Linked DNA regions of Homo sapiens: region 1 is reported to be linked to region 2. Evidence: microRNA targets listed by miRTarBase, many of them from high-throughput screens and not tested one by one. Region 2 holds a microRNA gene; the other region holds the end of a gene's coding sequence.
What was found. The annotated mature microRNA hsa-miR-6867-5p reads UGUGUGUGUAGAGGAAGAAGGGA and lies in region 2 at 3,773-3,795, shown strand. An mRNA with a match to its seed (bases 2 to 7 or 8) in the 3' UTR can be bound and repressed. Matches are read on the target gene's strand: a 7mer-m8 pairs with bases 2 to 8, a 7mer-A1 pairs with bases 2 to 7 and ends in A, and an 8mer does both.

Region 1: miRTarBase lists SH3PXD2A as a target of hsa-miR-6867-5p. The part of its 3' UTR that is shown has no 7-base or 8-base seed match.

What each region holds. Positions count from the first base shown.
Region 1 is chr10:103,597,230-103,602,593 of GRCh38, forward strand. SH3PXD2A (SH3 and PX domains 2A) reads right to left here. Exons shown (of 15, transcript NM_001394015.1): 15 at 1-5,364. The coding sequence ends at 4,587. Among named protein-coding and RNA genes, the nearest start is that of NEURL1-AS1, 82 kb to the left of the region's middle. RefSeq lists an enhancer at 1,623-1,917.
Region 2 is chr17:40,189,830-40,195,193 of GRCh38, forward strand. MIR6867 (microRNA 6867) reads left to right here and starts at 3,768; the gene lies at 3,768-3,834. It overlaps RAPGEFL1 (Rap guanine nucleotide exchange factor like 1), which reads left to right. Exons shown (of 15, transcript NM_016339.6): 7 at 605-702; 8 at 811-933; 9 at 1,487-1,665; 10 at 1,753-1,843; 11 at 2,384-2,434; 12 at 2,777-2,864; 13 at 3,097-3,161; 14 at 3,534-3,588; 15 at 3,835-5,364. The coding sequence ends at 3,959. RefSeq lists a silencer at 1,653-1,712 and enhancers at 1,833-1,912, 4,614-5,114, 4,739-4,788.

The DNA.
Region 1 (5,364 bases), not on the chromosome of region 2:
TGTCTCACCAGGGTGTGCGCGGCTCAAGGTTCTCACATCCCCCAAAAAGATCTGGTGACTTCTAGGCTTCCTGCCTAGAAACTGAACTGAGGGCACCCAGTTTTAGAAAGATTCAAACATACACCAGAAGGATCACAGCCCAAATATCAGGACACTGGGGTGAGAGAGGGCTGCTGGGAGTCATTTTTAGGCCAGGTCTCTCTGAGCAGCTGGCTGCACCACAACAGAAATCAAAACAAGGAACAGCTCCCGAGGGCCTGCCTCTGCTCCAGGGACTGGGGCCTAGAGGTCAAGGGCCCCATGCCTGAATCCCTTTCTTCTGGGTGGATCTGGCAGGGACCCCTATCATCTTCCCAAAGAAGGGGGAGAGGAGAACGCCACAAGATCAAACTCCACCAACCCACCCACCTGTTCCACAGCTAGGATTCCTTCAGCACCCCGCTCCCTGCCTCTTGCTCTCTGAGCGCCACTGGTATTCCCTCCATTGTCCCCAATGAGCCCTGGCATCCATCTTGGTAATATTGCACTTTTCCTGTCTCTCAGATTGTTTCCATTTTTGATTGAGAATGCAAGGTATTTGGAGGGGTAGGGGAAGTGAGTAACCTTAAAGAAATAATATATTAGTTAAATACAATAACAGGAAAAATAGGGGTTATTTTATCTTTTTCCCCTTATTAAAAACAAGAACTACCAAACCAAGGTCTAAACTTAAATAGTCCTACACCTATTCTGCAAACACTAGTAATAGGAAAATAATGCCTGACTGGAATTCCCTTGTCTTTTTTCCTTAGATGATAAAAGTAGTAACATGCCTTGCTGAGGAAAGCAATGGATATAAATGCCTGTAAAATACGCTGCTCTAACATCTGAAAGTGATTAAAATGATTCTATATAATGCCTTCGTCAAGATGGAAAATCAAGGAGGAAGAAAGAGAAACCTTTGGGGCCAGGCTTAGGGTAGACGGGGCTGAGGCCTGGCAAGACAGCCCGTCTACAGTCATTGGACATAGGGGAAACCCACAGGGCATGGGGCACACCTGCTGCTCAGGGTTGCCCCTTTCCAGCTCTCTCTCACTGCCCCCAAAGTCCCATGGCCTGGTGAGAATAGTGAGGAGGAGAGGGGCAACACAGCCAGGTCTGCTGTCACAAAGAGGGATGAGGTGGGGGGAGATGACATTTTTTTCCCCTTGCAATAAAAGAAAAAGGTCTTGAAACGGAAAGGAAAACAAAGCACCAAATGCTGCATCTTCGGGCATTATATGAACCTCAATAATGACCTCAGAAGGGCTCATTATGGTTAAAGTTGCAGTATACAGCAATACAGTGTCGTTTCACATTTTCAGTCGCAACTCATGGGAAACTAGGTTTGGACACTGCGGAGATTTTGTTTTTCTTTTTCCTTTTTTAGTCCGATCTGGTTTTCCTCCAGATGGGTCAGAGCCCTAGGCCCCCTCCCTCCTCTGCCTGCTGCCGGCAGTATCCTTCAGCATCACAAAGCAGCTCAGTAGCTCAAGGGAAAGGCCCTCTCGCCCTGGCTAGGGCTAGGAGGCCAGGCGCACAAGGCCTGGTACCCCCTGGCCATGTCGGAGAAGGACTGGCATGCACCCTTCTTGCTTCAAGTATTAATATTCTCTTTGGGTTTGCAGGGTTTGTGCTGTGAGTTAGGGGGTGAGGGGGCGAGGTGCGAAGACTGGGGCATGGCAATCCCTGTTCACTGCCCAAATCTACATGCTGTCACCAGATGGCAGCATTCCCCACTTTTCCTGGATGCCTGAGCAACTCCCAGCCATCCTTGGGGCTGGATGTCACAATGTAAACATGACCACACAATAAACTATAATGGCAGTGAGGAGGAGCACGGGATTAATGTAGTGGGGAGATCTGTCATTAACTAGCTGTGGGATTTTGGAAAAGTTGTTTCCTGTCCTTGGGCCGCAGTAACAGGAAGGGATGGGATAGAGACCTCTGAGGTCTCTTTCAGTCCTGCATTTTAATGACTCTATTACTTACAGCACTGGGGGTCAAGGAGAGGGGGTCCTTGGGGGGGGCTGGGAGAATGTGGGGGGCAGTGCAGGTGGTGGGGAAGGGCAGGAAAGGCAGGCTCTCGGGAGCACTGTGGTCCAGTCCAACTGAGATGCTCTGTGCTTGGCAGACATGCTCTGCACTCCCTCCTGGCCTGGCTGGCGCACTAGTGACTGAACTGGCTCAGTGCAGACATCTGAGGAGCGAGGCTGCAGGGCCCTCCCCCTGGAAGATAGCTACATTGAAGGTTCTTTACCTGACAGTCACTCTACTTTTAAATTTTATTTTAAATAGTCATAAATTACTTTTTTTCTCTTAATAAATATGTGCTGTTTAAAAATGAGAAAAGTATATACTGCATCTTTAAGTAATGCACTTTGCTCTCTGGGTTTTTTCCATTCTACCTTATTTAAAGTGCATTAATTAAAAAATAATGAACCACTTCTTTATCATTATTGTTCAAATAAGTACAAATAATATTAACATGAAGACACTAAACCACTACCATTAGTACTGCAATCTAGCAGATTAACTCAACATCCTGCTCTATTTAATACTGTCCAGCAGAAGAAAATAACTAATTTCAATTTTAAACAAACTCACAAAACAAAAGGAAACAAAACAATCTCACCACAGGCCTTCGACAAAGAACACGAGCCATTTGCTCTAGCTGCCAGGCATCAGTGTATGGCGAGGGACAGGGGCTTAGGGTTGCCCAGGCAAGGCCTCTGGGATGGGGTGTGGTGGGGTAGGGTAGGGGTGGGGGTGGGTTTTGAAGGCACTGAGACACTGGGTCCCATGCTGCCCTGCCTGGGTGGGGAGCAGGGTGAGGGAGGGCCTTTCCTCCTCTATAGAAAACACCAACCCCCAGTCCAGGGACCCTGGCAGCTGAATCGGTGGCTGTGAGGCCCAATCTGTCCGAAATCAAAGGCACGTGTGGAAATCCACTCCCAGCGAAGGGGGAGTCCTTGGGGGAAGCCGGCTGGGCTTCTGGAGGGTCCCCTCTGAAATGTCAACAATTGAAAAACACAACCCAAAGGTGACAGAGGACCTACAGGGAACTTTATTCTCTCGCTTCTGTCTTCACTGGGGCACTGACCCTCGGGAAGACCAGGTTGGCTCCTGGCACAGGGATCCTCCATCTTCTTGGGCACCTGTGGCATTGCCAGCAGGCCAGAGGGGGTGGCTGGCGGTGTTGGCTCCAGTCTGACCCAAGGGGCCAGCCGGGTCCCCCCTCTGCCCATAGTGGGGACAATGGCTGCTTCTCCATGCTTCATACGTAAGGCTTCCAGCCCTGCCCAGCTGGGGAACACACGCAGAATGGCGGTCACCCAGCAGGCTGGGAGCTGCCTTCTCTCCAAAAGTCTGGCTCCTGAACACCCTCCTCCTTCCTGGGGAGGGTTTTTGCCCCTCTGAGGTTGTGCAGGAACCAGAAGAACAGTTTCTCTGCTTCACCATGTCTGCAACCTGGGGCTTGCCTAGCCCCAAATTTTTCTGGCAGGCGCCAAGCTCCAGCACAGTCCACACAGTGGAAACCAAATGAAACGACTTTGGCTTGTGGAGGGGGAAGAATGTGAAACAAAAACAAAAGCAAAATCACCCGCCCACAAGATACAACAGAAACCCCATCCACTACCCATCCCCTTCCCATGTGAGGCCGACCACCCAGGCCCCCAAACAACCCCTAAAATAAGACGCAAACCAAAGGCCTGACATATAAGCCCCAAATCAACAAACCTCTCCCGAAACATGCAAAGGAACTGCCCGCCCAGAAATACCCAAAATAGTCTGTGCAGATTAGGAAGAGACCGGTGGCTTCGCCCACCCTCTCTGTAAACTCTGGTACTGTGTCCTCCATGGGGTGCCCCACGGAGAGCGGGCTCTCTTCTCAAGGCCAAGACAGTGACAGTTATGAAAGATGGTCTTTGCTGGCACCTGGGAACTGCTTTTTCTTCAACTAACAGTGACAATGGCCTGGCCCAGAAGCAGGCTTGAGCTCAGAAGACACCCCCAAGCCTGAAAGCCAGTGGTGGCTTCTAATGTACCCACCTGTGGTAGGCGTGGCAATGCCCAGGAAACCAGCACAATTCACAAATACAGCTTAGGACAATACCAGGGATACCTGGGGTGGCAAGATGCCAGCAATCAAAACTGGGCCAAGCAGGGGCAGGACACTGGAGGCCCCCATGACCTTGTCTTTTCCAGATCTGTAGCAAAGGCACAACTGGGGTCTCCCACATGGCCTGTCCCAGATGGCATGTAATCCATTGGTGAAGTCCCTATGGTGCACAGGATATCTCAGCTTTCTTGGCTCTGGGTCCCAGGCCTGGGACTCCCTGGTCCATTCCCTTCCTCACTCAGTGTGGGCACCCCCATCCCCTACCTTCCAGCTGTGGGATGGCTTGGACAGGGGGCATCTTTGAGGTCACCCATTCTGCAGTGTTGAATGTTGTCCACCCCCCACCCCCCACCCCCATTTTTTCCTTTCCCTTTTGTTCGTCTCACCGCTCATCCAGTGGGCGGCCAGAGAGGCACACTGAGGCTGGAAGAGCCCAGGCCCTCTGCTAGTTCTTTTTCTCAAGGTAGTTGGAAGGCACCCAGCCTTTGAAGGGCTTCACACCATCCAGGATCTGGCAGTACCACCAGCCATTAGGGTTCCTCTCCAGAACCTCCATGGACACCCCCTCCTGGAAGCCTGCTGTCTCCTCATCCCCCTCGTAGTCTGCGATAGAGACGTACACATCTTTGAGGTTATTGTGGATGAACTGAGACTTCTCGATGGGCTTGGGGCGCACAGGGGACACGGGTATGCTGTTGCGCTGGGCGGGCAGTAGGGGTGAGTCTGAACCCTGGCTGGCAGCCCGTTCGGCCAGGCGGCCCTTGGCCTCGGCGGCAGCGGAGCGAGCAGTGCTAAAGGAGGAGTTCCGTCGGACGCCTCGGAGGCCATCAGTGGCCGTGAGTGACTCATTCCTCCGCAGGGCGCAGGACAGGTTGTTGTCCTTGGGTGGCGGGGACACAAACACCGACTGGGGCCTGACCGCCACCTGCCGCACTCCGTTCCTCATCTTCACCGCTGGAGTGCCTGAGGTCTTGCCGAAGCCCCCGGGAGGTTTGGAGGGGATGGGGGGCGTGGCCTTCTTGCTCTGGTTGACGGTGTTCAGTGCTTGGACGCGCCTCTCGATCTTCTCCAGGCTGTCTGATTTGCCTTCGTTCTGCCTGCCCTTGGCGGGCACTGTGTCCAGCTCTTTGCCAGAGGGGTCAGGTTGCTCGTTCTCATCCAGCACCAAATAGTGGGAAGGGGCCCAGCCCTCCAGCTCCCCAAACCTCACATACCACCACCCG
Region 2 (5,364 bases):
CCTGTAATCCCAGCTACTTGGGAGGCTGAGGCAGGAGAATCACTTGAACCGCGGAGGCGGAGGTTGCAGTGCCGAGATCAAGACACTGTGCTCCAGTCTGGGCAACAAGAGCGAAACTCCGTCTCAAAAAAAAAAAAAAAGTTTGGGAGGCACTGGTCTAGGACTCAGGTTCTGATCTGAGTGCTGCCCCTCACTCACCTATGGATTGTATTCTGATCCTTTAACCTCCCTGTGTATGTAAGGATGCCACATTTCACAGGCTAAAGACACAGGATGAGTGGGAAGGCAGAAAGCCAGCAATGTCACTGAAGCTTTGTTTTCCTCTACAGTAGGAAAAAATTTCAGCCTTCCCAGTGTCACAAGGACAACAGAGTAAGAGAAAAGCTGTGAAAGAAAGGGAGTAGAAAAAAAGTTATAAATGCAAAAGAAATAATCATTTGACAAATTCCAGATAAATATGGCATAAACTAGTGATAAGATGAGTTCCATTAGTCTAGAATGTGTCAGTGTGGGGTGAGGAGTTTTTGGATAGGACAGTGTCAGTGTGGGATGTGTGAGGGTGCAGGCGGCAGGGGCCGAGGATGAGCAGCTCTTTCTCCTGCAGAGAAGGTCCTTCTCCAGCCCACTGAGGACTGTGTTTTCACCGCACTGGGCATCAACAGCCACCTGTTTGCCTGTACTCGGGACAGCTATGAGGCTCTGGTAAGAACTTCCCAAGGCCTTGACTGGAATGGAGGGCTGAGGAGGGCTGTGAGCAATCCCTCACCCTGCCACCAGGAGCCCAGCCCCTATGCCCCTGCCTGCCACCAGGTGCCCCTCCCCGAGGAGATCCAGGTCTCCCCTGGAGACACAGAGATCCACCGAGTGGAGCCTGAGGACGTTGCCAACCACCTAACTGCCTTCCACTGGGAGCTGTTCCGATGTGTGCATGAGGTGGGGACCGAGGCTGGTGCTATGCTGGGGGGCTGGAGGGAGAAATGTGCCATTGGGAGACGGTGTTCGCAGCACAACGTCCTGGTTCCAAGGCTCACTTGCAGCAAGCCCTTGGGCAACGCATGGCCGTAACCTTTGTTCCCCCATCTGAAAAAAATCGCAAAGAGAGAGACCCCAGAGCACAGTGGCTCAGGGCCCAAGTGCTGTTTACACAGAACCTGACCCAGGATTTCTATTTTTAAAATATTCACTATTAAAGAAATAAAATAAGGCAGAGACAATAATGCCTAGCAGATGGTTGTCTTGAGGATGTCAGCCGTGAGCGAATGCCTGGCACCTAGTAAGTGCTCAGTAGCTGGTGAAATATTATTAATGCTGGTTGTTTTCTTTTTCCGCATCTTTGCCGCCTCCTGTCCTTTCTATTTTTCTATTTTCCACCCCTTCCGCCCCCGCCCTCCTGCCTTTCGCTCCTCATCGCCTTGCACTGCCATCTTCCCACCCACTCCCCTCACCCCCTGGCGCCCTGGCCGCCCCTCCGCTGCCGTGGGTGCAGCTGGAGTTCGTGGACTACGTGTTCCACGGGGAGCGCGGCCGCCGGGAGACGGCCAACTTGGAGCTGCTGCTGCAGCGCTGCAGCGAGGTCACGCACTGGGTGGCCACCGAAGTGCTGCTCTGCGAGGCCCCGGGCAAGCGCGCGCAGCTGCTCAAGAAGTTCATCAAGATCGCGGCCCTGTGAGTGCGGCCGTCGGCGGGATGGGGGGCCGGAGGCCGGAGGCCCGCGCCGCCGCCCGCCCCTGACCCCGCCTCCCACCCCCGCAGCTGCAAGCAGAACCAGGACCTGCTGTCTTTCTACGCCGTGGTCATGGGGCTGGACAACGCCGCTGTCAGCCGCCTTCGACTCACCTGGGAGGTGATGAGACCCCTCCCGTTCCTACCTGGGAATCTGGGCATCCCGGGCTCCCCGAAGTGCGTCCTCCCGGGACGGCCGCCGGCCTGGAGGGAGTCTTTGCGCCAGTTGGAGGGAGGCGCCCTCTTCTGGCATACGCAACCCCAGGGCGCACAGCTTGGCTAATGGACCCTGTCTTTGTGCAAATTAGTGAAAAGCCCGGATCCCGCCTGAGTCACGGCAGGCAGCCCTTGGCCAGGTCAGGTCGCAGACTTGGCTGTGGGAGTTGGGCTGATTTTCATCCACACTCAGTGGGGGCATCTTTATACAAAGCACCTGCATAAGACAGACCTGGCCTTCCCCAGAATAATGAATTCCTCTGGGCTGTTTCAAGCCTCTAGACTTAGCCAAGGCCTGACTTCATTTCCCCACCCACCAGCTTCCCAGCCCCCTACAAGCCATGCAGGCCCTTTTGCCCTCCAACAGGGAGAATTAATCCGAGGCTCCCATGTAACCCAAGGAGCTCCACTCTGATATCCCTTCTCCTTCCTTCAAACTCTGCAGAAGCTGCCAGGGAAATTCAAGAACTTGTTTCGCAAATTTGAGAACCTGACGGTGAGTGGGTTTGGCTCTTTCTTCTGCTCTTGGACTGAGAGCCCAGAAACCCTCTGTTCCCATAAACCCCCTTCCTCAAGCTTTCCTTTCAAGGTGTTTAGTGTATGGGACCCCCCACCCTCCTTACCATGCTGGAGGGTGAGGTTGGAAGGATTGCGCCCCTGTTTTTCTTGAAGGAAAGGGGGAGTAGTCAGGTCCCTCCCCACCACACCATTAGAAAGCCCCCAGCACCCCTATCTGATCAGGAATGTATACAAGGCAGGGGGTGAGGGAGGAAGCTGAGGACATCTTTGGGATGCATTGGCCAGTCTGTCCCTTGATCTCTCTCCTGTGGAATACTAGGACCCCTGCAGGAACCACAAAAGCTACCGAGAAGTGATCTCCAAAATGAAGCCCCCTGTGATTCCCTTCGTGCCTCTGATCCTCAAAGGTGAGAGAGTTACTCCCAAGCTGTGCCGCTTCCACCCATGCTTCCCTTCTCCTATGCCCTGCTTCTGACTTCCAGCTCCCTCTCGACTCAGCCCTGAGTACCCACCTGGAGAGGAGCCCCCCACCACAGACGGAGTGGGTTCTGGGGAAGAGCGGGGTCCTCGGGTGCAGTGGCCCCTTTCGAACTCCTCTCTTATCCTTTCCTCACATTGGATTCTCTCCACATCCCCTAGACCTGACTTTCCTGCACGAAGGGAGTAAGACCCTTGTAGATGGTTTGGTGAACATCGAGAAGCTGGTGAGTGAGTGGCACTGCAAACCCCTAGTCCCACAAGTGGGGGGCTTGCATCCTCTCCCTCTCTCATCACCTCCCAAAAATAGCAGCCTTCCTCCAAGTGCCCAGCTTGCCTAACAGACTCTTGACTGTCTCCCTGGTGGCATCACTGTGGCAACCCACCCACAGGTGGCAGAGCTGACAGGCAGCTTGGGGGCAACTTCACCTCCCCCTCACATGGCACTCTGTTACACCCACTCCTTTGGTCCTTCAGAGACCCTCCAGAATTGGAGACTGGAGGGAGTAAAGCAGAGTGGGAGAATGGCGGAGGGGGAGCATAAGAGGGGGAGCCTCTTTCTGTGCCCCTTTCAAGGCTCATTCCTTGTCATCTCCCAGCATTCAGTGGCCGAAAAAGTGAGGACAATCCGCAAATACCGGAGCCGGCCCCTTTGTGAGTACCCAGGGTACTGAGAGCAGTACAGATAGAGCTTTGACTGAACGGGAGGGTTCAGGGGAGAACTCCCTGTCCAGATGTGTATTTCCATACACTTGCTGGTTCCCCATTCTCTCCTTGCCTCTGCAGAGGCCTTCCTGCCCAACATCTGTCTCAGTCCACAGCCTGATCTTCTGCCCGGTGTGTGTGTAGAGGAAGAAGGGAAGCTGGGAACCTGACTGCCTCTCCCTCTTTACCCACTAGGCCTGGACATGGAGGCATCCCCCAATCACCTGCAGACCAAGGCCTATGTGCGCCAGTTTCAGGTCATCGACAACCAGAACCTCCTCTTCGAGCTCTCCTACAAGCTGGAGGCAAACAGTCAGTGAGAGTGGAGGCTCCAGTCAGACCCGCCAGATCCTTGGGCACCTGGCACTCAAGCACTTTGCACGATGTCTCAACCAACATCTGACATCTTTCCCGTGGAGCAACTTCCTGCTCCACGGGAAAGAGGTCGATGGATTTACCCCTGGACCCATAAGTCTGTTCATCCTGCTGAAGTCCCCTCCCCATTGCTCCTTCAAGCCAAAACTACACTTTGCTGGTTCCTGTCCCCTCTGAGAAAGGGGATAGAAAGCTCCTTCCTCTATGTCCTCCCATCGAGATCTGTTCTGGGGATGGAGCTTCCAACTTCCTCTTGCAGCAGGAAAGAATGCTGCTCACCCTTCTGTCTTGCAGAGTGGGATTGTGGGAGGGATTGGCAGCCTTCTTCTCCACCACCTGTCCAGCTTCTTCCTGGTCAGGGCTGGGACCCCCAGGAATATTATGTTGCCGTGTGTGTGTGTGTGTGTGTGTGTGTGTGTGTGTGTGTGTGTGTGTGTGTGTGTGTGTCTTCTTTTAGGGAGCAGGAGTGCATCTGGTAATTGAGGGTGGATGTTGTGTGTGCTGGGGAGGGGTCCTTCTGTTTGGTGCTACCCTTGTCTACTCTGCCCCTGGATGGTGCGGGGTGCTTTCTCCACCCCCACACTCCCTGCTCAGCTCCTCGTGCTGCCCTGCATGCCCAGGCTTGTGAGCCAAGCTGCTTTTTGGGGCAGGGAGTAGCAGCAGGTGGGAGGGGTTACCCATCAGCCCTTGCAAGTCCCCCACTCAGGCCTCTGGAAGGTCCAGGGATGGGCTCTGATGAGAGGGTAAAAGATGCTCAGGGAAACACAGGCCTCAGCTGCCTAGAGGACCCTCCCCCTGCCTTGCAGTGGGCTCGGGTAGAGCAGTATCAGGAGCTAGGGTTGTCTGCTGCCCACACTCCTGCTTTTTGGGATATCTAACTGCTAAGGAGGGAGTTGACATCCCCCTTCTGGCTCATGTGTCTGACACCAACAACATGGTCTCTGTCCCTCTCTCTTTGACTCTCCCTTTGTCCTCCCCATAGAGCTGGGGTGGGGTGGATCCCTATACCTGGGGCAGGCAGCCCCAAAGTGGGGGAGGGGGATGGCAGAGACTGTAAAGGCGCCACTGGACTCTGGCAAGGCCTTTATTACCTTTACTCCCCTCCCTCTCCCATCACCAGCCTCAAGGCCTGAGGGGTGCAGGGGCTCCTGGCAGCTACTGGGTGAGGTTTCCTGGCACAGACTCACCCTTCTTTCTGGCACCACCTCTTTCCCTTTTGAAGAGACAGCAACAGCCGTAGCAAAAGCAGCTGCTGCTCCTGCTATGAGGGTGTATATATTTTTTACCCAAAGCTCTGGAATTGTACATTTATTTTTTAAAACTCAAAGAGGGAAAGAGCCTTGTATCATA